Homo sapiens: one gene and its partners. The protein of the gene in region 3 purifies or fractionates together with the protein of the main gene of each other region. This does not show direct contact. Each region holds a gene or a part of one and is shown on either strand. Other genes may lie near its edges.

The links.
Region 1: the proteins of POP1 (region 3) and RPP30 purify together in Homo sapiens (affinity purification with mass spectrometry; 6 studies listed by BioGRID and IntAct, with this or other methods). This does not show direct contact.
Region 2: the proteins of POP1 (region 3) and METTL17 purify together in Homo sapiens (affinity purification with mass spectrometry, with the first as the bait; 2 studies listed by BioGRID). This does not show direct contact.
Region 4: the proteins of POP1 (region 3) and MEPCE purify together in Homo sapiens (affinity purification with mass spectrometry; 2 studies listed by BioGRID). This does not show direct contact.

The regions. Positions count from the first base shown.
Region 1 is NC_000010.11:90,888,955-90,895,978, reverse strand, and holds part of RPP30 (ribonuclease P protein subunit p30), read right to left. Parts: intron 1,205-7,024; coding exon 1,088-1,204; intron 526-1,087; coding exon 496-525; intron 100-495; coding exon 62-99; intron 1-61. UniProt on the Homo sapiens protein: Component of ribonuclease P, a ribonucleoprotein complex that generates mature tRNA molecules by cleaving their 5'-ends. Also a component of the MRP ribonuclease complex, which cleaves pre-rRNA sequences.
Region 2 is NC_000014.9:20,986,004-20,993,003, reverse strand, and holds the start of METTL17 (ribosome assembly protein METTL17, mitochondrial isoform 2 precursor), read right to left. Parts: upstream 3,025-7,000; 5' UTR 3,002-3,024; coding exon 2,927-3,001; intron 2,775-2,926; coding exon 2,621-2,774; intron 2,541-2,620; coding exon 2,406-2,540; intron 881-2,405; coding exon 799-880; intron 464-798; coding exon 382-463; intron 1-381. UniProt on the Homo sapiens protein: Mitochondrial ribosome (mitoribosome) assembly factor. Binds at the interface of the head and body domains of the mitochondrial small ribosomal subunit (mt-SSU), occluding the mRNA channel and preventing compaction of the head domain towards the body.
Region 3 is NC_000008.11:98,120,280-98,127,303, reverse strand, and holds part of POP1 (ribonucleases P/MRP protein subunit POP1), read right to left. Parts: intron 3,969-7,024; 5' UTR 3,967-3,968; coding exon 3,825-3,966; intron 1-3,824. UniProt on the Homo sapiens protein: Component of ribonuclease P, a ribonucleoprotein complex that generates mature tRNA molecules by cleaving their 5'-ends. Also a component of the MRP ribonuclease complex, which cleaves pre-rRNA sequences.
Region 4 is NC_000007.14:100,425,412-100,432,853, reverse strand, and holds the start of MEPCE (7SK snRNA methylphosphate capping enzyme), read right to left. Parts: upstream 3,024-7,442; 5' UTR 2,836-3,023; coding exon 1,165-2,835; intron 1-1,164. UniProt on the Homo sapiens protein: S-adenosyl-L-methionine-dependent methyltransferase that adds a methylphosphate cap at the 5'-end of 7SK snRNA (7SK RNA), leading to stabilize it.

The DNA of each region.
Region 1 (7,024 bases), on a different chromosome or scaffold from region 3:
ACTTCAAATTCAAAATTTCCTGAAAGACAATGTCAACAACTTTTTACTCAGAAAAGGATACAGATTTGCCACGTCATATGGCCCTCTTATTTCTAAAGGCTGAAATAAAATGAACAAAGAGTAGATATGAGAAAATTATTTATAACATTTCAATGACTTATAGCAAATTAATAGAAAATTTAAGTATCCAAAAATAAAAAAATTACATAAATTTAAGTCCTTATAATTTTGATGGGTTTCATAGCTTTTGAAAATATAAGAGAAGCTTGAAAGGCATTTTGTAACAGTATAAAAGAAAAACTGATTATATAAACAAAAGTTGAAGCCTAAAGAAAGTGGGGATAAATTTTACTATTTAGCAATTACAATGAGCAAATGCAGTTAAAATAGAAAAAAATGCAACAAATATTCATTTACTATTTTAATTTATCCCCTAGAAACTGAAAAGTTTTATAACCTGAAAGATGAAAACAAAGTACTTCATGCTAGACTTACCCTTTCTGCAGCACTAGATATAATTACATTCTACAAAATAGAAAGTGACTAATATTAATCTTAGATAAATGTAAAAAAAGGAGTTTCATAATATAAATAGCCAGTAATCATATTTTAACATTTAAGGCTCAAATACCAACTTCTTTTAAAGATAAGGTAAATAATTAAGGTGAAAAAAATGAAAAGACTTCATGTCAAACTAAAGGCAATCTGTAATAAAAAACAAAATATGTTTTCCTAACAGATCTTAGTAAAGGTGAATTAAGTTTAAAAAACAAGATGAAAAGGTCACATATCTTAATTCAACTCAGTGAGGACCATTGTTATTCTAGACTTTTCTTTCACAGTATGTAAATTGCAAATTTTTATCAAAAGATATGGCTTCCAACACATCTTTTTCTCCCTTACATTATTCTTCCCTTGGTATTTTTCTTTCCCTTAAAATTTGCAGAGCTCACTGAAATGGCAGAATTTGTTCCTATGCTATGAGAACATTCTGCTTTAAGGAAAAGGAGTCAGTTTGACAATTCCAGTGTACTACTAATAATAAACTGCCAGATGCGAAAAACATCCTAAAATTATAGAACCATACCTTTCCTTTGCAGATTTGCATCAAATTGAGGGCACTGGAAATTGTATACCTTCTCATTGTGGAGTCTTTGATAGCAGGGCTATAGACAAGTTCAAAAGCCAGGCCTCGGTCAATCGCCTTCACAGGAAATAAAGAGAACTGTCAGAGATAAGCATGCACTGGCCTACTTCATTTTCACTGATTCTCTCTTCACATCCCTCCTCACTCCCTACTACTGACCCCTTACATGTCAAGGTACAGCTTTATGAAAGACAGATCAACACTCAAATGGCACCACCCACAAGGAGAAGAAAATAAATCCGTGGCTCTACTTGATTAAGAGAGTTTAACTTGGCTGTGGGGAAGCTGACTTTACATAAACAGGAATTATGAAGAGGCTAAGAAGAACAAAGTCCCAATGGCGTGAGAGAGGGGCTACTACTCCATGAACTATCAAAAGGAAAACAGAAATGTACTCCCTACATTTACAGTAAACTGTATACAAACATAGTAAACCAAGTAATCTGACCTATGAATGCACAAAGAGACAAAGAAATGAAGAGCTGAAAAAAGCCCAAAGAACCAAGGGCAGGAAGGTCTTTCAGGTAAGTAATTTATTCTCTATATGTTGAAGAGAGAATAACAGCCATAGTTAATTGAGTGCTGACTATATGCTAAGAGAGTCTTATATATAATATTTAATCCTTACTACAATACCTTTATAAAGCATTACTGCAAAGCCTGCAAATTGCCCAGATATCTGTCCTCTCCTTTTTCTTTAGTAATAAAGCCCCTGATTTTTCACTGGGCTTATAGCCGCACAGCAAAAAAGATGGAAGTGCCCTTGAAGATTTTGCCCAGCTCACCATACAAGCTTGGCTTTTTTCATGAGAAACAGAAACTTCTTTATTTAATGTACTCTTACTACAGAGGGATCCACAGGTAAGTAGATGAGTGGAAATGATATTGAAATTAACCACCATACTGTTCAGCTTTCCTAATGAGCACCTAAATGTCTGCATCCATTCACAAAAGATGTTTTAAGCCCACTACGTGCAAAAGCTGAGATGGTTTCTCCCTTCTAAAAGCTTACATTTTAGTGGGGGAGATGATCAATAACCACACAAAAATACAAAACTTCAACTGTGTTAAGTGCTATCAAGGAGAAGTTTAGGGTTGAGGAAGAAATTAAGCAGTTAAATAGTAGAGGAAGGTGCACTTTCAGAGGGAGGTCAGAGCATGCAAAAGTCTTCAAGGTTGCAGCATGGCAGCACGTAGGGAAGGTCAAATGCTGGAGAAAAATAATGAGGAAGACAGGCTAAAGAGGATGGGAAGGGCCAACTGTGCAGGCCTTTAGAGCTGGTGATGAGGATTATTCCTAATGGAGAAAACATCTGAAGGATTTTCAGCATAGAGATGATAATCAGACTCTCAATTGCAAAAGTCACTTGAGTGGCAGTACTCTTTCAAAAGAATAAAGAAAGAATGGTAGGCATGTTCTAGGCAGTATGGTCCAAGTCTCTGCTTGGCAAATGAGTTTCGATTGCCCAGAGTATAAGTTGGGACTGGCCCAGCTGTGACTACTGGGGTTTACTCCTGAGCATTTACGGGGAATGGAGAAACTTGTCTTTTTCTAGAACTGGCAGTCCATCTTGATTTAATTCAGTTGTACTTGAAGGCCCCTTCTGCTTTTCCCTCCCGAACACAGATTTCCTTAATTCTTCCTCCGGCTTCAAGGCTCCCAGATTTTATTTTAGATTTTCCTATATGTCTGATTCTAGTTTGGTTAGAATTTAAATGCTATTTTCCACACTGCAACCTTTCCCTCTCTCATTTTTTGACTTTTCCCCATCTCTAATTCTTTCACCTGTGTTGATTATTTCTGGGAATGACATTTGTTAAGATAGTATTTCTGTCCTAGTTGAACGTGTATCTCATTGGCTCTGCCAAGCTTGCACACTTCTTGAGAGCTAGACTGCCTTTTACATAAAAGGTGTATAATATATTTATATTTTGAGTGAATAAATAGCAGCTTATGGAGAAGATGTCCTGTGATAACGTTGTTCATTATAGATGATCCATCATCAAAGGAACCTCGGTGCACCTGGCTAACCAAAAACCACAGATAAGTAAAAACATCCCTTTTAGCCATATTATCAGCCATCTCCTTGGCTATATATTTTACCAAAACTACTAATTAGCTGAAGAGGCTGACCTGTATTTCTTTTCCTTATCCTTCTAGTTGTGGAACGATAATACAAGGCAACAGGATGATGAAGAGGGGAAATAAATGAAAGAGGTGAATGATATATAGAGTTGGATGCTTAGATCTCGAAATATTCCTAATTGACTGAATCTAAATTTCTAGACCCTTGTGGGTACCAAATCAAAATAAAAACAACTTTTGCGGGGGGAGGGGAGAAAAAAAGGATATTATCAGCATAATTATTTTTTAAGGAAAAAGTTCTGATTTTCATCTTGGTACATTAATCAAGTTCACTTTAAAACTGCTATAGGAATTCTTGAAAAAGAAAAATTAAAAATAATGTGCTATTGAAGGTTGTGAATATTTCTTTCATAGCATCTTATTTTAAATTTTTAGATGGATAAAATACAGACTCATTACCTGGGATCTTGCTGTAAGACCATTTTGATGCAAATTGCCTAAAGCTCATCAAATGATTGTTCCTAACAGCCTCTTCCTAACAGTGCCTGCCTGATTAGCTTTTGTTCTCATGTCTGACCAAAGGTTCTGGCATGGGTGGATGATCACATTTCTTTACTAATGAAAAATAATGGTCATAAAGATGCTACTAAGGACAGGTGTGTGACAGTTGAATCAAGATACATTGGTACTAAAATTCCAAGTATTAAGCAAAGCCTTAGAGAAAGACGAGAAGAAAGTAAGGAGCTGATTACTGGGACAATATACTGATTCCCTGTTAATTTCATAAAAATTAGTTCTTTATTCAATTCAAATGAATGAAACCCTTTCAGTGTTTAAGACAGGTAATTTGTCCACATGACTCACAAAGCAACATAAGAAAACAATAAAAAGTACTACTTGCATCTCCAATCCTATCTGCCCTATCCCTTCCTCCAATAATCACTTTTATTAATTTCTTGTGTCTTCTTCCAGAGTTTCTTCATACAACTATAAGCAAATACGAAGAGATACTATTTTTCTTTCCTATCCAAAAGGTAGTCTGCTGCATTGTTGTCCTGACATGAAAGCTCTTCCAAGTCAGCTCATAACTTCCTCTGTTTTACAGTTGTAGAGTATCATATTGTAGAGGTATAGCATGTATTTAACCAAACCTCTACTGAGAGCCTTTGGGTGGTTTCAGTGTATCTGTAGAATAACACTAAAGTGGGATTGCTAGGCATAATGGGTTGAATTGCGTCCTCATCCACAAAAGATACAATGAAGCCCTAAACCTCAGTACCTCAGAATGTAATCTTATATTTGGAAATAGGGTCACTGTAGATGTAATTAGTTAAGATGAAGTCAGATTGGAATAGGGTAGGCCCCTAATCCAATATGACTGGTGTCTTATGAGACGATGGCCATGTGAAGACATAGAGACAAACAGGGAGAACACACTGAAGACAAAGGCAGAGACTGGAGTTACGTAGCTGCAAGCCCAGGATTACCAAAGATTGCCAGAAAATCACCAAAAGCTAAAAAGAGGCAAGGAAGGTGGTCCTATAGATTTCAGAGGGAACAAGACCATGCTGACACCTTGATTTCAGACTTGCAGGCTTCAGAACTGTGAGATCATACAGTTTAAAACTGTTGTTTAAATCAGTAAACGTATTTGTAATTTGAATAGTTGTTGCCAAATTACCCACTCTCCGCATAGGGACTGTTCTCATTTACACAGTTACGAGCAAAATATGAGAATGTCTGCTTTCCTGCAGCCTTACAACAGAGTGTATCTCTAATCACACAGGTGATTTTAATGTGAAATCTCTTACTATGATAAATTTAATCATCTTTTCATATGTCTAAGGCCTGTTTGCATTTCCTTTACTGTGAAATGCCTTTTTCATATTCTTAATCCATTTTTTGGTATTGTTCATCTTTTTTTTTAACTTATTAATTTCTAGGCACTCTTTGGTCTTTATGTGTTAAGGGAATAAGCATTTTGTCTATGACATGAGTGAAAATTTTCCATCAGTTTGTCATCTGTCTTTTAACCTTGTTTCTGGTGTTGTTTGCATTTTTTTTTTCCACAGAAATTTTTAATACTGGCACAATTTGCTGGCACTGAATGGACACAGTACTTAACACATTAGATTCATGTGTGATAAAACAAAGTTTACAGAACACTCACATCCAAATCAAGTATTTATAGCATGATTCATGGAACTACCTCACTGTTTAGATACTACTTACTAAACATCTCTCAGTGGGGAGTAATCGGACCACGAAGACAGAAATGGATTAGGGTTAAAGGAAGGACTGAGGGGAAAACATCAGAGAGAGTGTAAAACATATAAGATCCCTTAAAATAACTCAATAAGCTTGAAGTCATTGTTAAGTGACAATAACATTGAAATGGAAATAACATTGTAAAAAAATCAAAGGGAAAGTAAAGAGATACGTGCTGTTTTAAGAACATCCTTCTTCTCACAACCTGAATTCATAAAGCTCATGTTTTAAAATATGAAATTACTCTGTGCTTAACAAAGAGTTCTGCTGTAAAGTAACTTTAAAAAGCATTTCCCAGTAGGAAATAACAGCAGATTTGGAATCAAAGCTTGAGTACAAATCCCTTGTCAACCCCTTGAGAGAGTCATTTAACTGTGTGAACCATGAACTACCTAAGATTCTACTGTATTACCTGCATATGGAGATAATTAACATCTACCCCATCCCAAAACTGCTGGGCCAAAGCAGGTATCAAACTGCTTATGTCATAAAATGCTAAATAATCTGAAGTCATGTGATTATTCAAGAAAAGGAGTGGAATCCAATTTTTTAGAAACACATCTATCACATGACAGAAATGCGATGACAAGTTACTTAGACTCCAGAAGAGGTTTGTGGGAGATTTTAGAGGAAATTGCATAATTGAAATTATGGTGCCCTAAGCATACAGTGAAGATGACAAAAGGGAAAAGAGCTGCAAAGTACACAAATGGAGTGTTTGGTATGCTATAGAGCTCCTGGGCCCTCCTTCACAATCCCAACCTTCCAAGCTGATGATTCTCACATGGCATCTGGCCTATTGGTAAAAGATGAATGATTTACCTTTCTTAATACTGCTTTTCACCACAACCAAAGAAAAGGGCCCACATCGTGACAAAATTAAGATCTGTGCTTAATTTAAAGTATCCTGGCCGAGGCGGGTGGATCACTTGAGGTCAGGAGTTCAAAACCAGCCTGGCCAACATGATGAAACCCCAACTCTATTAAAAATAAAAAAAAAATTAGCCAGCTGTGGTGGCGGATGTCTGTAATCCCAGCTACTTGGGAGGCTGAGACAGGAGAATTGCTTGAACTGAGGAGGCGGAGGCTGCAGTGAGCCGAGATCACACCACTGCACTCCAGCGTGGGTGGACAGAGCGAGACTCTGTCTCAAAAAAAAAAAAAAAAAAAAAAGTAATCCTTATAAAGTGATCCTTTTAAAGCCAATCTATGAACTTCTCAAGGCCAAAAACAAGTTTACACTCAAAGCCAAGGGAACATGCAAGGACCAAGACTGTGCTCTCACAATGTATACATTTCCATACTTTATGTAGACAAACAGCTCCACAGCCAGACTGGATATTATGTTACAAATAATACATACATACCTATGCCACAACTATTATTTACTCTGAACAACAAGCTAGACACCTGTATGTTTCCAACTTTCTCTCTTTAATAAAAAATAGGTGAATAAATTAACAGGGACTCTTCTGCTTCCTGACCAATTCACAGTGCAGCCTACTCTTCTACTAGATGAAGAC
Region 2 (7,000 bases), on a different chromosome or scaffold from region 3:
TTCAATACAAATACCTTATGGGATAAGAATCTCCTAAAATAGTGATTCTAAACCTTTCTTGGGTCACAGAAAGCTTTCACAGGATAAAGAGAACGTCTTTATTTTGTGTTTTTTTTAAGAGATGAGGTCTCACTCTGTCACCAGGCTGGAGTACAGTGGAGATCACAGCTCACTGCAGCCTCAAACTGGCTCAAGCAATCCTCCTGCCTCAGCCTCCCAAACAGTTGGGACTGCAGGCAGGAGCCCACTATGTCCAGCGGAGATCCTCTTTAAAAAAAAAATGCATATGCAATGTCCCAAGAATCCCCATCCTAGAAAACTACTTTATGAATAGGGAACTGATGGTCAAAAAGTTCAGGTTGGAAGTTAAGGGACTTTCACCTCATGGAATGCTCTGGAGACTGCTGCAAAGCCACCATCCAGTCTTGCTGCCATATACACCAGGCTCAGTCCCTCAGTGTAGCTGCCATTAAAATCACAGAGTTGTACATACTAGTAAATAACCTTAATCCCATAATTACCTTCTAGATTTAGAAAATGACATCTTGGAAAGGGCTCTTCCAGCTCAGGCCTTTCACTCCCCAATACAAAAGGGTCCTGGGGAGACTTACAAACACTAAATTTTCAAACTTCAGTGTTCAAAACTTTGTACTTTAGCTTTTTCAAATACTAAATTGATCCTTTTAAGGTCAGGTGATATAAAAGAAAATACTAAATTGATTGTGTAATTGTACTCCCCCAACTCTCTTTCTAAAGTCTACCTTTGCTTTCTTGTGCACCTCTTCTGGGCCCCCTTACCTCAGTTCTTGCCAATGGTAGGTAGTTTTACGTAGTGCGTGTAGCACTGCTCCACGAAGTTTCTCCTCTGTCTGAGATAAGTCTGTGGTGAGAACAAGGACTGGAAGTCAGGACCTAGGGAGAACAGGGCTCAGATCCAATATCTGAATATACTGCCCACCCAGTCCTCCCCGACTCCACCTAAGAAAAGCCTTAAAGCTCAAGGGAGACGACAAACCTAGAGAAAAGTTTCAGGCAAGAATTAACGGTAACAACTACCACTAACAGATTGTATCAGATAGCATTTTATTTATAAGAATGGTTTATTCAGCTTAACCAATCCTGTCCCACAGGTTTGTTTTATATTAAAGGAAAGTGTGATACAAATTTAAAGGGTAAGCTGGGTGCGGTGGCTCACGCCTGTAAGCTCAGCACTTTGGGAGGCTGAGGCAGGCGGATCACGAGGTCAGGAGTTTGAGAACAGCCTGACCAACATGGTGAAAACCTTTCTCTACGAAAAATACAAAAATTAGCCAGGCGTGGTGGCGTGCACCTGTATTCCCAGCTACTTGGGAAGCTGAGGCAGGAGAATCACTTGAAACCGGGAGGCAGAGGTTGTGGTGAGCTGAGATCGCACCACTGCACTATAGCCTGGGCAACAGAGCAAGACTCTGTCTCAAAAAAAAAAAATTTTTTTTAAAGGGTAGGCCAAGGACATTATTTTTTGGATTTCTTCACTTCTCCAAAATTTAAGGTTTTGATGATCTCCACTATTCCTATGGAGAGGAAAGAAATCTGAAAATCTACGTCTCATGACTGTTCAGTTCAGTACTATTTAGCAAGTATCTACTGAACTACTGTGAGCCAGGTACTGTGAGGTGTGCAGGGAATGCAAGATGAATAAATGGTAGTGTCAAGGAGCTCACAATCATGAAACTAACTTGATGAATTATATTTACCCTCTTATCCCAGAAGAGGGTTTCAGTACTGGGCAGGGACCATCCAGGGACTTTATTTTACCTGAATAAAAACTTAGAAGGTCCTAATCCAGTGGACTTGCAGAAAAAAATAAATATCTAGATTTTAACAGTATATTGGTAGCCAGGCGCGGTGGTTCATGCCTGTAATCCTAGCACTTTGGGAGGCCAAGGTGGGCGGATCACCTGAGGTCAGAAGTTCGAGACTAGCCTGGCCACCATGATGAAACCCCGTCTCTACTAAAAATACAAGTAGCCGGGTGTGGTGGTGCACGCCTGTAATCCCAGCTACTGAAGAGGCTGAGGCAGGAAAATCACTTAAACCCGGGAGGCGGAGGTTGCAGTGAGCCGAGATCGAGCATTACACTTCAGCCTGGGTGACAGAGCAAGACTCTGTCTCAAAGCAAAAACAAAACAACAAAACAAACAAACAAACAAAAAACAGTATACTGGGACATTCTGACCTTTACCTAAGCAATCTCTAAAATAATCTACCTTCTTTTAGTAAGGCATCATTGTAACAACTGCTGCTCTGGTTAGAAAGTCAAATAAGAGACTTCAGTATCTGAGAGATTGTAGAATTATTTCTTACTCTTCATTTCTAACCGATATTTCAATCTCGCCCACTTTTTAATTATTCTTAAGTCCTACCTGGGTTTTCCAGGAATTTTTTCTCAAGATGCCTAGCCCGTCTTTGCAACTCCTCTGGCTCTACAGGCAAATGTCTGCTCCAGAGATAACTGGTCAGTGTTTGCACCTGATTCTCCATAGTGGGCCCAGCGCTCCCTATGGGCCAAAGACGAAAAGCGGAATCACTTGCATGTAGGTCCAGTCCCGTTTCTTCTCGCTTTCCCGCCGTTACTCACCAAGTAGCAATAACTGGGCACCGTTAGCCAGTGCCTGTGGCAGCCGCACGTGCGGCAGCTTTAGGATGCCAGGGTGCTGGCGATGAGGCCTCTTCTGCAGGAAACCGGACTTGTTATCTACCTGGGTCACTCCGGGTACTAAGGCGGCGAGCGCCTGCAGGCAGAGAAAGGTAGGTTGATTTCCTGGCAGAAAGGAAAGTTGCTGGCAATCGCTAGGGCGGGGGCTGCCAGGAGCGCTCCTCCTCTGCGCGGAGATGTCTCTGCAGATCCAGAGTCTCTCCGACAGCAGGGAATGTAGGCACTCACCCGGGCCTGGGGAGCCACTCCAAGGCCGGGGCACCATCTTCCTAATGTCAGTAGACACTTCAGTGCCGCCGCCATGGCTCCGGAGGCGAACCGGAAACGGAAATACAGGTGCCTGTGACCCTCAGTCCCAACGCCGCAAGGAGCAGCCTTCGCAGAACTTCTCCCGACAGTTTCAGCCAACGAGAAGAGCGAGTGTTTGCCAGCAGCCAATAAGCAATGGTTATATAAATAATCCTTGAGGCAGAAACCGTGTTTGGGCCGACTTGAAGGCTGCGTTGGGCCTGGTCACCGGCCCCAGAAATCAAGAGGGTGGGGTGGGGCGGGGCGGGACGGGACGGGGGCGGGATGGGGTTGGGTGTGAGCGCGCCAGCAAAGACTGTTTCTGGGAGTACTGACTTCCTGTGTTCTTTGCATTCCTCCGCGGAGAACTCTGAGTCTTGGGTTGTTTCCCTGTGTGAAAAAGGGAGACTGCAGTAACGGAAAGAAGAGAAAAATCAGATTTAAGCGACTGAAGAAAACAGAAATTAATAGTTAAATGATTATTGAATAGTTAATAGTTTGATAAATATTAAACCTAGTTAATAGGTTTATTTATTTTTTTACATTTGTTAATTTCTCTTCAAATGAGACCAGTCTTCTTAGTAAGCTAACATAACACTTACTGAGAACACCTATGTGCTAGGTACTTCAGGGAAAAGGACTGATCCCCACTTCACAGAAAACATGGTTCTGACGGGGACCCTCCTGTGTCTGCTGCTACGTCAGAGTGTTTCCCCCAGGCCCAGGACTTAGACAGTAGCCGTCTGATTACCTGAGGTGCAGAATCTCAGGTGGGTCCAGCCACTATTGTGACGTGATAATATAGCATAGGGGAATGGTCTCCAGAGTCTGCAAGCTCATCAACACCTTCATTCACTAGAGCATCAGAAGGATAAATGGCATATGCAAGGCGATATCTACTTTCGGGACCTGACAGTGGACAACTGCTACCTCAGTCTCCGAACACTTGAGCTCACCCAGTGTGTGATTTCTGTGGGCTCCTGGCCCCCTAATTTCCGTTACAGGTTTAGGATGTTCTCCCAGCACATCCACTTGACCTGTGTGTGGAACCAGCCAGTTCATCTGGAGGGCTAGACTCCTGAGTCATCAGGCTAGGGCCTGATGATCTCAGGCCCCAGCGCCCTAATTGGACTTTCCTTCTGTGGTTCTCTACCTTATTCGACTTCTTCCCCAAATCTGCAGACCTCACCGACTGCAGCCTGCCAGCTCTCTCAGGGCTCCTCATCTCGGGGTGAGGTGGGGTGAGGAGACATGGGTGGACAGGGGGAGAAGGGCCGCTCTGCCTCTTCCAGGCGGAACCGCCCTTCCTGTAGATGAATGCATGGCCCACTGACACATCCTAGGCTGACACTTGCCTCTTTTCCAGCTTTTCCTCAGTCCTCCTTTTACCTGGGAATCTTTCCTGGGTGCTCAAAAGGGTCACCACAGTGACCTCTACCCCTCCAGTGAGAATGCTCACGTTCAGAGTCGTGATTCTGTGTGTGCCCTGGGCTGAGGACTCTGCCCTAGAGATATCTGAGGAATGGAACCATTAAATTAAATTGATACCTGTTGATATCTCTCCAGACTATTAAGTCCACAACCCAGGCCGTCTCAAAGGTTCTTACTCCTGAAGCCATCCCTCATTTTTTGTGCGAGTCTTGCCCAAATGCCAGGGTGCTGGCGATGGGGCCTATTCTTGCCCAAATGCACAGATAATTCTGAAGATTGGGCCATACTAGATGTGTGTGTTGGAAGATCTGCCAAGATTCTACTGTCAGCTAGTCAGAGCTCTTGAGTAAATCCCTCAGCATCTTGTCCTTATAATTCTATTCATATAGCTGAGATCATGTCACGGCTCCAAAAGCCACCATCCAAATTATGGGCATTTTCTGTCCATAAAACTTTGTGAAATGATTCCTTGTAGGAAATTTATCCAAGGGAATCACCAGATCTCAAGTACCTTCATAGTAGTTCAACTCCAACGCATAAGCCACCGCGCCTATGTAGGGGCTCCACACAATGTTTGCACTCCACACAATGTTTGCGCTCCAGGATAAGAGAAGGAGAGAAGGGAGAAAGGGATGCAACTTTCACCTCAATGGGAGTGAATGAATGGCCTCTTCAAACATGACCTGTCTGGGATTCTGAGTCATTCTAGTTCCCCTGCAACAGTAGGAGCCATCTTGACTTTATCTCTGAATCTCAGTGTCTGTCTTATTCTGTGCTTGGGTTTTAGTAGGTTACCAGTGTTTGCAGAAGTGACCCTGCCTGATTTGCGGTGGACTGTGAAGCTAAGTGTCTACTCTTTTCCCTCCGTAGGCCACTGGGAGGACAGATGATGCTCAAGTTTCCCTTTTTCCTCTTGGTCTTATGTCACTTACTGCTTTCTTTTCTTTTTTTTCTAGCCTATTGTTTTCTTTTTAAGACAGGTGACATTCTGTCACCCAGGTTGGAGTGCAGTGGTGAGAACATGGCTCACTGCAGCCACACATCCTAGGTTCAAGCGATTCTCCTACGTCAGCCTCCTGAATAGCTGGGACGACAGGTGTATGCTACTGTGCCTGGCTAATTTTTTATTTTTTTCGAGAGATGGGGTCTTTCCACGTTGCCCAGGCTGGTCTTGACCTCCTGAGCTCAAGCGATCCTCTGGCCTTGGCCTCCCAAAGTGTTGGGATTACAGGCGTAAGCCACCGCGCCTGCCTTATTCTATTGTTTCCTTTCTCTCCCACCCTCCCACTTCTTTTCTTCCTCCCTTCTTTTATTCCTTTTTTTTCACAGCACAAGATATCTTCTAATGTAAATATTTGATTCTTTATGATAAATTAAAAAAAGACTGGGGTGCAAATCAGAATCAATCACATTTTTTTCTTACTCCTTGGGGGCTCATTTGACTCTTGAGTGGGAAAGAGGCAGATCCCAGGTGAAGCCTCAGTCTCTTGGCCTAAGGCAGGGAGAAGCATGAGTCAGATCAACATGATGATTCATCTGAGTCTCAACCATGAAGAAATTCACGGATTGTACAGGGTTTTCTGGTGCAGTCAGCTTTCTTGTGTTGTGACTTGGCTGATTAACTCATATTCAAGGCCAGAACTACTGTTGCTGTTGAGACTAATCCAATTACAAAGTATTCTGCTGCGGGGGAGGGATCTTCCAATTGGATCTGATCTCCTTTGGCAAAAATCTATGTTGAGGAAAGCAAGGAGGTTCTGGAGGGATTATAGATTTTGAAAACTCTGGCTCGGGCAGACCCAGCATGGCTTCCTACAGATATAGGATGGGGGATCACCACAGAGCAGTGTTAGTCTTGGCATGGGATGGCATGAAAGGATCGCTGATATCCTCAGAAGATGAATGGTGGTCACACAGGAGCTTCTTTGGAGGTGCATTGTGGACTCTTAACACATGGATAAAGTCTTAGAGGAAAATCCAAGGATTGGACACCCATTGGGGGTCTCGTATATCTCTCCTGAGGGACTGAGACCCTGAAATAGGGACCGGAATGGCCAGGGCAGTGAGAGAATGTAGAAGTCTTTCTATTCTCAGTTCATGTTTCTCAAGAAAATCTAAAAGTTATCCCATTAAAATGTTCTGGGTTGGGGGCCTCCATTGTTTAACAACTAGGTCAATGGTTTCCAGTTCAGACTCGGGAGAGGAATCCCAAGAAGGAAACTCTGGCTTATCATCTACTTCTCCAAGCCTTCTAGAAATACCATTTCTAATGTACTGTCCTGCAACAGGGACCAATTCAAGACAGAACTTTCCAGAAGGATCTGTTTGTGTTTTTGAGAACTACTGGGAATGGCCAGCACAGCCACCTGGCCTAGGAGACTTGCTATTATACAGAAAATGAAGAAAAAATGTGAGAAGAAAGGGATGAAGAAAGAGAAGATAAAGAGGAAAGAAAGATATATAATGGGGAAAGACATTTATCCATGATAGGGAGTTTATTTTTCGTTCTTGAGTTGGTGGAATTCTTTACTGACCATGTTAGATGTGCCACACTCTGTGTTAAGGGCTAAAGCTAGGAGAGGA
Region 3 (7,024 bases):
ATGAATTTCAAATCTAAGCTCCCTGCTATGGTCTGAATGCTTATGTCCCCCAAAATTCCAGTGTTGAAATCCTAACCCCCGAGGTGATGGTATTAGGAGGTGGGGCCTTTAGGAGGCGATTAGGTCATGAGGGTAGAGCCTTCATGAATGAGATTAGTATCCTTATAAAGGAGTGCTCACAGAGACCCTCGCTCCTTCCACCATGTGAGAACCAGTGAAAAGGTGCTGTATATGAACCAGAAGGCAGGCCCACACCAGTCACCAAACCTGCCCGCTCCTTCATCTTGGACTTTTCAGCCCTCAGAACTGTGAGAAATACATTTGTTATTTATAAGCTACCCAGTAAGATACAGGTTGTGTATCCCTCATCTGAAATAACTGGGACCAGAAGTGTATCAAATTCCAATTTTTTTGGATTTTGGAATATTCGTATATATATAAAATGAGATATCTTGAGGATAGAACACAAGTCTAAAGACAAAATTCAATTACACTTCTTTCGCCTTATCATACACAGCCTGAAGGTAATTTTATACAATATTTTTAATAATTTGTGCATGAAACTTTTTGCACATTGTATACTTGAACCATCAGAAAGCAAAGGTGCCACTATCTCAGCCACCCTGTGGACAATCTGTGGTTGGCTGGCATCAGCATCCTTCCTGACTCTGAATCTATATGCTACTGATAAGCAATCACTTTCTTACACTTACTCACATGTAAGTATTTAACAGTAAAAATTACATGTATTTTATTTGTCTTTGTGGGTGTGCTTACGTGGTGAAATCTGGGAGTGCTTGGAAATATTTATATCACAGCTGAAGGGGGCTGGGAACATCTTTTTTCCCATGGGAATGCTGAATAAACTGTGTGTTATATGCCTTCATTCTGACTGTGACCCATCACATGAGGTCGGATGTGCAATTTTCCACCTGTCATGTCATGTCGGCGCTCAAAAAGTTTTGGATTTTGGAGCATTTTAGACTTCAGATTTTTGGATTAGGAATGCTCAACCTGTATTTTGTTACAGCAGCCCAAACGACACTCCCTTAATACTATAATCCACATGATTGTGTACAGTCTTTTATCCTAACTCTCTGCCACACTCAAATTGAGAGCCACTATACTAAATAAATAACTAAAAGCAAAGTTCCAGGATGGATGTGGTGGCTCACACCTCTAATCCCAGAACTTTGAGAGGCCAAGGTGGGCAGATCACTTGAGTCCAGGAGTTTGAGACTAACTGGTCAACGTGGCAAAACCCTGTCTCTACCAAAAAAAAAAAAAAAAATTTGCTGGGCATAATGGCACATGCTTGTAGCCCCAGTTACTCGGGAAGCTGAGGTGGGAGGATCACCTGAGCCCAGGAGGTCAAGGTTGAAGTGAGCCACGATTGTGCCATTACCCTTCAGCATGGGTGACAGAGTGGGATCCTGTCTTAAAACTTTAAAAAGCAAAATTTCCAGCCAGGCACAGTAGCTCATGTCTGTAATCCCAGCACTTTGGGAGGCCAAGGTGGGTGGATTGCCTGAGCTCAGGAGTTCAAGACTAGCCTGGGCAACATGGTAAAACCCCGTCTCTACTAAATACAAAAAATTAGCTGGGTGTGGCAGCATGTGACTGTAGTCCCAGCTACTCGGGAGGCTGAGGCAGGATAATTGCTTGAACCCGGGAGGCAGAGGTTGCAGTGGGCCAAGATCGCACCACTGCACTCCAGCCCAGGCAACAGAGCAAGACTCCATCTCCAAAAAAAAGGCAACATTTCCATACAAGTGTCTGGGCATTATGACTATAAGACAACATTAAATATCTGTCTGTGGCCGGGTACAGTGGCTCACGCCTGTAATCCCAGCACTTTGGGAGGCCGAAGCAGGTGGATCACTTGAGGTTAGGAGTTTGACACCAGCATGGCCAATATGGTGAAACCCTGTCTCTACTAAAAATACAAAAATTAGCCAAGAGTGGCAGCACACGCCTGTAGTCTCAGCTACTCAGGAGGCTGAGGCAGGAGAATCGCTTGAACCCAGGAGGTGGAGGTTGCAGTGAGCCGAGATCGCACCATTGCACTCCAGCCTGGGTGACAGAGCAAGACTCTGCCTCAAAAAAAAAAAAAAAAAAAAAAAACTGTCTGTAAATTAAGGGAGAGATCAGTAGAGAATTTTATAGTGTTTCTGCTTATTTCAATTGTGGTGTTAATTATTAAGCCACTATAAATCTTAGAACATTGTGAGGTTTAAATGAGATAAAAAAAATGTGAAAGCCTTATCATATGGCATGGTAGGCATCAACTGTAGGATCTGAATCTAGACCTTATGAACTTGACTCTAAAATTTACTTAATCAGACCCAATGCAGTTTTTTAAAGCACTCCAAACAAGTCCTTGGACACTTGCTTTTGCTGTCTTCCCAAATTAGCACTTTCTACCGCTGCCCTAATGAACAACTGTGATCTTCCTATCACTTCATAAGGTTCTAAAATCAGCACACCAGTGAAATACAGATATGATGACTATACTGCACTTCTCTTAGGAAACACAGAAGTATAATAATCATTGATGTTAAGGTAGAAATAAAATATACCAGCTCTAAAATATGCATAGCCAATTTTCATTATTTATAGTAGTCATGTTTCATACGTCCCTGAATTACGTCAATGAATTAGTGAATACTGAACCATTCCTCCTAGTGGGGATACATACATATCTTCATCTCACATAGATTATAATCTTTTTTTTTTTCCTTTTTTTTGGGACAGTCTCACTGTCACCCAGGCTGGAGTGCAGTGGCACGATCTTGGCTCACTGCAACCTCCACCTCCCGGTTCAAGCAATTCTCCTGCCTCAGCCTCCCAAGTGGCAGGGACTACAGGCACACACCACCATGTCTGGCTAATTTTTGTATTTCTAGTAGAGACGGAGTTTCGCCATGTTGGCCACTCTGGTCTCGAACTCCTGACTTCAGGTGATCCGCCCGCCTCAGCCTCTGAAAGTGCTGGGATTACAGGTGTGAGCCACCGCCCCTGGCCATATTATAATCTTAAATCCAAAAAACAACTCCTCCTGGTAGAGTTTATTTCCTTTATTTTACAAAAGAGAAAATGAAGTCTAGAAATGCTAAGTGACCTGCATGAGGCTGCCCCAGGGCTGAGATTCAAACCCCAGGAGAGCTGGAGCTTCCTGCACTGTACTGCCCTGCCCTTATACTGCCTCCATCCTCTGCCCATTTCTGCATGACAGCTGGGAAGCTCGGCTGGGAACGTAAACACAGGGAAACTCAAATTTTTCCTGCTCTATGTATGTCCACAAATGATAGCCAAAGCTTCATGGGTATTAATATTGGGGTTACAAATAAGCTTTGGCAAGTAGGCAAACTTGCAAATAGGAAACTCAAAAATAATAAGGGTCTACTGTATCTGTTTTTAATTCAGCTCATTTACTATTTAGATAATGACTATCAAAAGAGCTGACAAAAGCAATTTGATCAAAATGGGAGTGGAGAGAGCATCATGTGTATCTTTTTTTTTTTTTTTGAGACACAGTCTCACTCTGTCTTCAGGCTGGAGTGCAGTGTCATGATCTCAGCTCACTGTAACCTCCACCTCCCAGGTTCAAGCGATTCTCCTGCCTCAGCCTCCCAAGTAGCTGGGACTACAGGCACGCGCCACCACACCCAGTTAATTCTTGTATTTTTAGTAGAGACGGGGTTTCACCATGTTGGCCAGGATGGTCTTGATCTCTTGACCTCATGAACCGCCCACTTCAGCCTCCCAAAGTGCTGGGATTACAGGCGTGAGCCACCATGCCTGGTCTCTTATGTGTATTTTACCTTGTTTTTGAGCTTGGAAAGGTTTTTCACCTCCACTGTGGTGCTTTACACCTCTGTCAGCCACAAAGCCAGAGGACAGAGTCACATTGGTAGGCTGGTTTCTCATTTTCTTGGCGTGTTTTCTTTCTTTTGCATTTGACATTTCTGGAAAGGAAGTAATACATTTAATACAGGGAAAGGAAACTTCCACTCAAAAATAAAAATAAATTTAATGAGTAAATATTCATGTGATTCAAAATAAGTCTATTGATGGAAGAGACCCTATTAGTATATTGCAGTTTGCACTGTCAAATAATTAAATCATATACAACTGTTGATACCACATAAAGTCTGTTAGAAGAATGAAAAATGAGATAAGATTGCTATGGATGATAAAAAATTAATTAGTTCAAATACTTTACCTTGATTATTAGATGAAATAAGAGCCACCTGAATCAATGAAATACAGAACACCCTATTCCAAAAGGAGAAACTCTATTAAAAACAACACAAATTACTGACGCTTTCATTTCTACTACTCAGATGATGCCAGCTATATATTTAATTTATAATAGCAATAGATAATGATTTCAATTTGAAGCAAGATAAAGGACAAAAACAGTGGGACCCCGACTGATTTACCAGTCAGTAGTTCCCAACTCTCAAACTCAACATCCCCTATTTTTACTGATTCAGTTTGAAGCAGCTGTTCTCTATTTTTAAATGAAATGAATGTTATAACCTATTAGACACATATCGAGACATACCCTACAATAGATGCCCTAAATGTAACATAAAGGAGACCTAAGAAGTAATTTTAATAAAATAATATGTATTTCTGTATGTAACTATTTCACCACAACTACACTAGATGATATTATGAATAGATTTTGAACCCAGGGAATAATAACATCCACACAGGCACCAGCACAGGCATTGGCACAATCCATAAAGCTGGATGGTCCTGGAAGCCCTTCAACCCCAAGGTACCAGTGATTAACTCTTTCATTGCTAACTGCAGGAAATCCGAAGGGCCCTATACATGGACACACTAGGAGGTAGGGAAGCTCAGAGCAGCTGGTATTTACCAAGCTGTTCTCAAAGCAGTTCAGTATTTTAATACCAGTCTTTACTTCTACCTATACATAAAATTACCATGAATTCAACAGCTACAAAGGCAAAGCAGCACAGGTGTGTTGTACCAGTGCCTCAAAGAGAAGGTAGCAATGCCACTAATGACGTAATTTTCCAAATTGGTCAACACTCCTTAGTAAACTACCCCCACCCCCGCCACCCTGCCAAAAAAAGTACAAACTTGCTTTGATTTACTGCATTACTGGAAAATTCAGTGCATATTAAAACGGTGTAACCAGGCCAGGTGCGGTGGCTCATGCCTATAATCACAGCAGTTAGGGAGGCTGAGGCAGGCGAATCACTTGAGGTCAGGAGTCCGAGACCAACCTGGCCACCATGGCGAAACCCCATCTCTACTAGAAATACAAAAATTAGTTGGGTGGGCCGGGCGTGGTGGCTCACGCCTGTAATTCCAGCGCTTTGGGAGGCTGAGGCGGGCGGATCATGAGGTCAGGAGATCGAGACCATCTTGGCTAACACAGTGAAACCCCGTCTCTACTAAAAAAATACAAAAAAATTAGCCAGGCATGGTGGCGGGCGCCTGTAGTCGCAGCTACTCAGGAGGCTGAGGCAGGAGAATGGTGTGAACCCAGAAGGTGGAGCTTACAGTGAGCCCAGATCGTGCCACTGCACTCCAGCCTGGGCAACAGAGCAAGACTCCATCTCAAAAAAAAAAAAAAAATTAGTTGGGTGCAGTGGCGCGCACCTGTAGTCCCAGCTATTCGGGAGGCTGCGACAGGAGAATCGCTTGAACCCAGGAGGTGGAGGTTGCATTGAGCCGAGATGATCACACCACTGCACTCCAAGTTGGGCAATAGAGCAAGTCTCCATCTCAAAAAAAAAAAAAAAAAAAACCCGTGTAACCAATAATTTTATATAAATTAGGTACTGGGCTACTGTGGGGCTTTTCTGCACATAGCAGGCTGTCTAATATCCCTGGTCCCTGCCCAATAAATGCCAGCAATGTTAGCCCAATTATGCCAACCAAAACACCTACACAAACTTCCAAAATGCCAGCCACATCAGAATTTGCCCACTTCCACTGAGAGCCACTAAATTACCCCCCATTCACTTACTTCCTTTTCCAATGCAAGACCTCACACAAAATTAAGACTTGCCTATATGGTATAGTGTTTAAGGGCTTTCACTATGGAGTTTGAAAGATGTGGGTTCAAATTCCTTCTTTACACTTTTTAGTTACATAATCTTAGGAAAATTACTTTCTCACTTTCAGCCTCAGCCTCTTCCTCTACAAGTTGCTGTGAGAATTAAACATTATATACAGGCCAGGTGGGATGGCTTATGCCTGTAATCCCAGCACTATGGGAGGCCAAGGCGAGTGGATCACTTGAGGCCAGGAGTTCAAGACCAGCCTGGCAAACATGGTGAAATCCCATCTCTACTAAAAAATACAAAAATGAGGCCGGGAGCGGTGGTTCACGCCTGTAATCCCAGCACTTTGGAAGGCCGAGGCAGAAGGATCACAAGGTCAGGAGATCAAGACCATCCTGGCTAACACAGTGAAACCCCGTCTCTACTAAAAATACAAAAAATTAGCCGGGCGTGTTGGCGGGCGCCTGTAGTCCCAGCTACTCGGGAGGCTGAGGCAGGAGAATGGCGTGAACCCGGTAGGCGGAGCTTCCAGTGAGCCGAGATCGCGCCACTGCACTCCAGCCTGGGCGACGGAGCAAGACTCCGTCTCAAGAAAAAAAAAAAAAAATACAAAAATGAGCCACGTGTGATGGCATGCGCTTGTAATCCCAGCTGCTCGGGAGGCTGAGGCACGAGAATCCTTTGAACCCAGGAGGCGGAGATTGTGGTGAGCCGAGATCACGCCACTGCACTCCAGCCTGGGCGATAGAGTGAGACTCTGTCTCAAAATAAAAAAATGAACAAACATATACATACTGTACATGGTTTTGGCTTTGCAAAATGCATATACACAACTCACTTAGCATGGGGCTTTATGCTAACTAAATGCTCAGTTTATGGTAGCTATTATTCTTAAATAATAAATGAAATAGCAGGGATTGATGCCATTTCACTGTCTCACTCCACTAATTTCAACTAAATGAAAGACAGCTATA
Region 4 (7,442 bases), on a different chromosome or scaffold from region 3:
TGCTCTGAGGCCGATACAGTCCCGCGGCCTCACTTTAGCCCGTGGCCACTTTCTTCTCAGACTAACTCCCAAAAGGTGCCTGCCCTCTTTGAGTTTTGTTTTCTCCTCTACACCTTCCTGCCTCTGCTTCTTCCTACTGGTGGTAAGCCAAAAAAGGTCGACGGAGCCTGAGTAATTTTAAATGGTGCAAATTATCCATGAAGTCTTCCAAAGCTAGGGTCCCAGGACCATATCCTGTGTTTATTCTCACTCACAGACATTAAGTGGAGTGACTGCAGGTTCTGCAAGGGTAACTAACCCAGGTTTCAAAGGCAGACCTGTGGTTCCTTCCCTGCAGTTGGGGCTGGCAAAGTTTCAGGCCTATTCTTTCCTTTCTCTGAGAGAAATGAAGAGCCACATCCTTTAGGAAGCCTTTTCTAGAAGCTCAGCTCATCACAACCCTCTAAAAAGACCATTCTTCAGGCTTAACCCAACACAATGCCAAAGATCCCAGTAGGCAGCCTAACTGGAGTGTTCTCTGGGGAGCTGTGTGCAGTCAGGGGACTCTGCAGGGCACAGGACTCTCTCCTCTCTGCAGAGGAGTTTCTGGTTCTTCCCTCTCCCACTATCTAGGGTCAATGTGGAGAGGATCTACAGCCAAACCACTTGGGTTCCTGACACGCTTCAACAAACTGTCTAGGAAAACAAAAGCCGCTGATAGGAGCAAGGTGGCTATCAAAGGGCAGAAACGCCAGTATTAGTCTGTCGCTACCCTAATCTCCTCCCTAGAAGACATTCCATGTCTGACTCCCATTCTCAGGCTCCTTCAGTAAATCTGAGGACCAAGTTCCACCTGGATCAAATTCCCTAGTGAGCAGCAGCCTTCAAGGGAAGGGAAGGTGGACCAGTGTGGATTATAGGCCAAGCCGGGAGCAGAGCAAAAAGAGAGTCCTCCTCTATCTTGGAGATCCTTGCAGTCATGACAAAGGACTCCAGGGTCAATGCCCCAAGGTAGACACCCCACCTTTCCAGGTTATAAGAGGGGAGAGACGCCCAGCAGAGGCTCTCACTTGCCAACCCAGACCCCTCTTTTGAGGATCTGGGTCATAACCTTCCCTGCTACATTCCCATTTAATCTCATCTTCACACCTGGCCCCTATTCCAAGAGCCTCTGGACCCTCTTACCGTGACGAAGACAACATTGTTGGGGAAGACTGATGTGTCCGCTCCATCCAAGGGCACTTGGGGGGCAGCGATGGGACCCCGGCTGGCAGTCAGCGAGGCTGGGAAGCAGCTCCTCTTTCGAACGGTGGTGGTCCCTTCCTCACCCTCTGCCCCCGGGTCCCCTTCCAAAGTCTGGGGTGGGAGACGCAGCTCCTCGGAAAGGTAGTGTCGGATGTTTTGGCGGGCAGAATGGATGAGCCGGGAATCGATATCCAGGCCCACCATGCGGGACGGGCCCCACTTGCAGGCAATGCTCAGGGTCAGATGGCCCACATTGCAGCCCAGATCTAGGACGTCCCGGCCCCGAAACCACTCAGGCTTCAACACCCGAAGGCGCCCATCCTCACAGGAAGGATTGCGGTACCCATAGTATTTGCAATAATTCCCATACTGGAACTTGCGCTGTTGCTTTTTGAAGCCTGCTGCAGGCAGTGGGTGGTGGTGGTGGTGGCGGCCTCCCCAACTCCCTCGGCCCTTTTCCTTGGAACCCTGGCCTCCACCCCTAGCCCCTGCCTCCGACTTGCTGGAAGTCCTGCGACGTTTGCGATGTCGGGAGGAGGAAGATGGGGGTGCAGAGATAACTGAGGCAGCTGGAGGGGCTGATAGGGAGCCTGAGGGACCCTGCAGAGCAGATGGAAGGGGAGACACCACTTCATCCCTGCAGTTGATGGCTGTGTTGAGTTCATAGGGTTGGGGGGCATCCCGGTTCTGGCCCCTGTGCCGCGGCTGCTGTGAGGCGCCCTCCCCGTGGAGTAAGGGGGTGAGAGGGGCTGTGGGCGGCACGGGGTGACTCTCACTCCCTCCGGCTGCCTGCTGCTGCTGGTGGTGCTGTCCCCGGTGTCTATGCCGCTTCCGACCAGTCTTGAGTGGCGAAGCAAGAACTACATGGCCCTCATCAGTGCAAGTATTGAGACTGAGCGGGTCAGTAATATCTTTGGGGATGAGGATCTCCACCGGATCTCGCCCTTTGGCCGGAAGGGGGGATGACTTAGGGGTCTCCGCGTTGAGAGTGCGGCTCACTTCCTCATCCAGGAGGCTATTCAGGTTCAGGGGATCAAAGATATTGCCCCCCAGGAGGAAGTTGGAGGGTAACACAGAGTCACAGTCCGAATTCACCCGCCTGCGCCTCTTGAAGGCCGGATGTTTGAAGCCTCCCCCGCCTCCCCCTACATTACAGCTATTTCTCCTCTTGCCCCCGCCCCCCCCAGGTGGCCGGTGGGGCTGATAGCCATTGCGGGGTCGAGGAGGAGCAGGGGGACCCAGCTCTGTCCCGCCCCCTCCCCGGCGCTCCTCCCCCACGTCCGGGGGAGCGGCTCGCCCCGGGGGATCCGACAGGCGGGCCTCCCCATGCGACTGCGCCTGGGGGCCGCCCCCTCGGTGCTGCTGCGCCTGGGGACCACTGGAGGAGGTGGCCGCGGCCCCGGGGCTTTCCCGACCGACCGCAGCGGCTGGGGACCCCGCAGATGGCGCGCAACGACCCGGACCACGCTCCGTCCCGCCGCGGAGCTCCCCAGAGGCGGCCTCTTGGTGCGGTGGCACCGTGGGGCCGCCCCCTCCGCCCGACTCATCTTTGAGCGGCGGCGGCGGGGCCGGCACCAGAAACGGCTCCTTCTCCGCCGCCATCTCGATCATTTCCTCCCCTTATTCCGTGCCAGTCGGGGTAACGAGGGGGATCAGGGGGCCTAACCCCCCCTGCCTGGACCCTGCTCCCTTCCCCCCTTTCCCGAGTGCGCGCGCAGCTCTGCTCTTCACGCCTAGTCTCGCGCCCAAGCGCCTCCCCGCCAAGTGCGCCCTACTAGCCCGCGAGACCAAAACAAGAGGCCCGCGAGACCCGAACTACTCGAGGACTCAACCGCGCGTGCGCCGACCCCTTTCTCCTCCGCCACTACCACCCGGCCGCGAGCGCGCACGGTGAGCGCGCGTTCCCTTCGCCCGGGAACCACGCATGCGCACTCCGCCACCACCCTGGTTGCGCGCGCATCAGACTACGAACCAACTTAACGGCTCTGGGAGTTTAAATATAACCCCCCCACAGCCCCCGCAAAAGCCCACCACCCCAAACTGACACCCTACTTCCCTGCGCAGCTATGTCCGGCCCTACTGATCTCCTTTGTCTCTGCCGCGCGATCCCACCCACCGTAGGCGGGGGACGGGAGCTGGTGTGAAAAGGTCTCCTTGACACCCGACCCTTGTTCCTGAGGAATGAGTCTCAGCGGTCTCCGCCCGGCTCTAAATCCAACAACCTCCCCACCCCGCCTCCTTCCTCCCCCCTAGTGGGCAGCGCCTGCGCACACCCTTTTGGGCTTGCGCGGGTAGAGGCAGCACGTGCTGAAACTGGCGCCCCGCCCCCCGTCTTAGGGGTTGGGCCTGTGACGTCGCTTCCTTAAGTTTGGTAAACGCAGCGTGCGTCAGCGCGATCCGGAGGGGCGGGGCTTCCTGACGAAGGGCGGGGCTCATGAATTATTCATGAGCTGTTGGTAGCAAACCTCCCCCCCTCTGCCCACCTTCTTAGAAGCGCTTCCGAGGGAGCGGAGGGGAGACCCTACAAAGCCAAGGAAGGGCGGGAGTGGAACTGGGCTCAGTAAAACGCGATAGGTCATTATAACTCACCCCCCTTGAAAATATTCTCTGCTGAATTGGGGAAAAATAAAAAGCACTAAAACAGCCGATGTTGTCCAACTTCCTCTTCCCCCGAAACGGCTGAGTCGTTCTCTGGCTCCTCTACCTTCCCCCAATCGCAATCACCTGGAGACGCCACACCACGCCTTCCTCTCCGCCTCAACACCCACGACCCGAACCCCAACGCATCCGCCCACTCCCGACGCCCGCTCACTGGCCCGTCAGTTCGCGGGCCTCTCAACACCCACCGCGGCGCCACGCCGACTTATATACCAGCGAGTGTGGGCGGGGACGGGGGTTCGGTCCGCGCTGGGCCCCCCCAGCTTCTGCCAATGAGGAAGAAGCGAGTCTACGCCGTTTTCCCGGGGAGATGCGCCGCCCGGTCTCCCTGCCAGCGGAGTGCTGGGCCGAGGACAGGGCGGCAGGGGTGACAGTGGGGTCCAGGAGAGTCTCAAAATCCTAAGGTGAGGGCGTGAAGGAGACCAGCAGGAAGAGGAGGAATTAGAGAACGGAAAGAGGGAGGAAAAGGCAGTCTGAAACAGAAAAGTTAGTAGATGTGCTTCAGGAACAATCAGGCGCCGCGGCCGCCGCCTAAAAATATGTGACACCAAAGAGGATTCTGGGATTTGTAGTTTTCCCGGGACGTTCGGGTGGAAGATGGCGGATTTACCTCAGCTGCGGAAACGCAGACGCTGTTTCCAGTTGCGCATGCGCCTCGGCCCCGCGAGCGCACCGCCCTCGGGTGGAGCTAGTGCTCAGGGCGTCCTCGTGCCTTTTCTTGGTGGCGGGAAACCTGGGTTGAGGTGTGAGGGGCTTGCGGAGTCGCTGCGGCAGCTGGTTCCGCCCATCGCCTTTAGGTCCTCCTTGCTCCTGAAGGTAGCCAGCTAGTTTCTGGTTGTAGGTGAAGGTGCTAGGCGCTGCCAGTCCTGGCACCCGTTGCCTGAGGAGAAACTTTCTCAGGGCGACAACCAGCCCTTCGCCCTTTTTCCTCAGAATCTGTCGCCCCCAAGAAACAGACAAAAAAAAAATAGCCCAGTCTCCTGGCGGGCACCAACGATATGAGTGAGAATAAGGATCACGGGGCCTCGGCAGGAGTGGGGGTGGAGGGGAGATTCCCTCATGGTGGGAGGAAGGAAGGGAGGGGACGGGGAAGAGAGAGGGGGACGTGTGGCTCAGGGACACCGACTTGAACCGCTATCCCTGAGAGAGAATAAGGGGTGAGGGAAGAGAGGAAAAATGGGAGCGCCCCACAAATGGGAAGAACTTCTCTGCAAAACTTCTTCCCTTTGGATTGCAGGTGGATTTGGAATTGGGGCTTTTTTTTTTTTTTTTTTAAAGACTGTCTCGCTCTGTCGCCCAGGCTGGAGTGCAGTGGCGCAGTCTCGGCTCACTGCAACCCCCACCTCCTGGGTTCAAGCGATTCCCCTGCCTCAGCCTCCCGAGGAGCTGGGACTACAGGCGCCCGCCACTGTGCCCGGCTAATTTTGTATTTTTAGTAGAGACGGGGTTTCTCCATGTTGGCCAGGCTGGTCTCGAACTCCTGACCTTAGGTGATCCGCCCACCTTGGCCTCCCAAAATGCTGGGATTACAGGCACGCGCCACCGTGCTCGGCTGATTTTTTTGTATTTTTAGTAGAGACGGGGTTTCACCGTATTGGCCAGGCTGGTCCCGAACTCCTGACTTAAGGTGATCCACCCGCCTCTTCTTTCTTGTTAAAAGTTTTAAATCGGGCTTGCTGAGCTTGTGCACAAACACGAAGGAAGAAAGCAAGGGAGGGAAGGGGGAGGAAGGAAGGAGGGAGGGAAGGGGGAGGAAGGAAGGAGGGAGGGAAGGGGGAGGAAGGAAGGAGGGAGGGAAGGAGAAGAGAGAGAGGGAGGGAGGAAAGGGAGGAGGGAGGGAGGAGGGGGAGGAAAGGGGAGGGAGGGAAGGAGAAGAGAGAGAGGGAGGGAAGGAGAAGAGAGAGGGAGGGAAGGATAAGAGAGGGAGGGAGGAAAGGGGAGGGAGGGAGGAGGGGGAGGAAACGGGAGGGAGGGAAGGAGAAGAGAGGGAGGGAGGAAAGGGGGAAGGGAGGAGGGGGAGGAAAGGGGAGGGAGGAGGGGGAGGGAGAAGGGAGGGAGGGAGAGGAAGGAAGAAGGAGGGGAAGCAGGGAAGGGAGGAGGGGGAGGGGGGTAGGAAGGAGAGGGGGAGGAAAGGGAAGGAGGAGGGGGAGAAAGGAGAGGGGGAGGAGGGAGGGAAGAGGGAGAGAGAAAGGGAGGAGGGCAAGGAAGGAGGGGGAGGGAGAGAAGGAGGGGGAGGAAGGGATGGAGGGACAAAGGGAGACAGAAGGAGGGAAGAAGGAAGAGAGGGAGGGAAGAGGGAGGAAGGAGTAAAGGAGGGAGAGAGGGAGGGAGAAAAAGTGAGAGGGAGGGAGGAAACTGCTATTAGTTAATTGAGGCATGAAAATAAGCAGGAGTCCACATACTGTTATTAATGCAAAAAGGAAGATCAGACTCTGGCTTAAAAAAGATTTGAAATATACTTTTTTTTTTTTTTTTTTTTGAGACAGAGTCTCACTCATTTTGCCCAGGCTGGAGTGCAGTAGCACGGTCTTGGCTCACTGCAACCTCCACCTCCTGGGTTCAAGTGATTCTCCTGCTTCAGCCTCCCAAGTAGCTGAGATTACAGGCGCCTGCCACCACGCTGGCTAATTTTTGTATTTTAGTAGAGATGGGGCTTCACCATGTTGGTCAGGCTGGTCTTGAACTCCTGACCTTAGGTGATCCACCTGCCTTGGCCTCCCAAAGTGCTGGAATTACAGGCGTGAGCCACTGCGCCCGGCTGAAATATACTCTTTAAATACCGCTTTTTTGAGGCTCAGGGAGTCTGGGTTAGAGGACAATGCTAAAGGGTTTACTTCTCTTAGACCAAGGATTTGAGGAACAATATAAGGAAGGGAATGATTGGATGGTTAGGAAGAGGAAATTTGGGAACACATTCTGAATGGTGTGTGGGGAGAGAGAATTACTGTTTATTTAAAAAAGTATTGGCAATACTGACAAGTTATTTCACTAGGTCAGTTCTCAAACTTTTTGGTTTGAGAACCCTTTTATACCCTTAAAATTTATGGAGGACTCCAAAGAGCTTTTATTTGGTTTGTATCTGTTGATACTAACATTTTAGAAATTAAAATTCAGAAACATTTAAAGTTTGATTAGAAATAACAATAATAAATATGTTAACCTAAACAGGTTTTTATGAAAAATACATTCTCCTAAACAAAAGAAAATTTAGCATGAAGAATGGTGGTGGTTTACATTTTTGCAAATCTCTTTCATGTCTGGCTTAATAGAAAACAACTGGGTTCTCGTCTGTTTCTGCATTCAGTCTGTTGGGATATCTTGTTTTTGTAAAAGTACATGAGAAAATCCAGCTTAATACAGATAGGTAGTTGGAAAAGGGAGAGGGCCCCCTAGGATTTTGGGACTACACTTAGAACTGCTGAGTTAGGTGATTTCATCTCAAAATTTATGTGATGGTTTTTAATGTTCTAAGTGAAATAAAACTCTTTTTTGAGATCCTCATTCACCTTCCCTTGGTTCCCTTTATTATTTCTAAGTTCTTTTTCCCTCCTTATTTACCC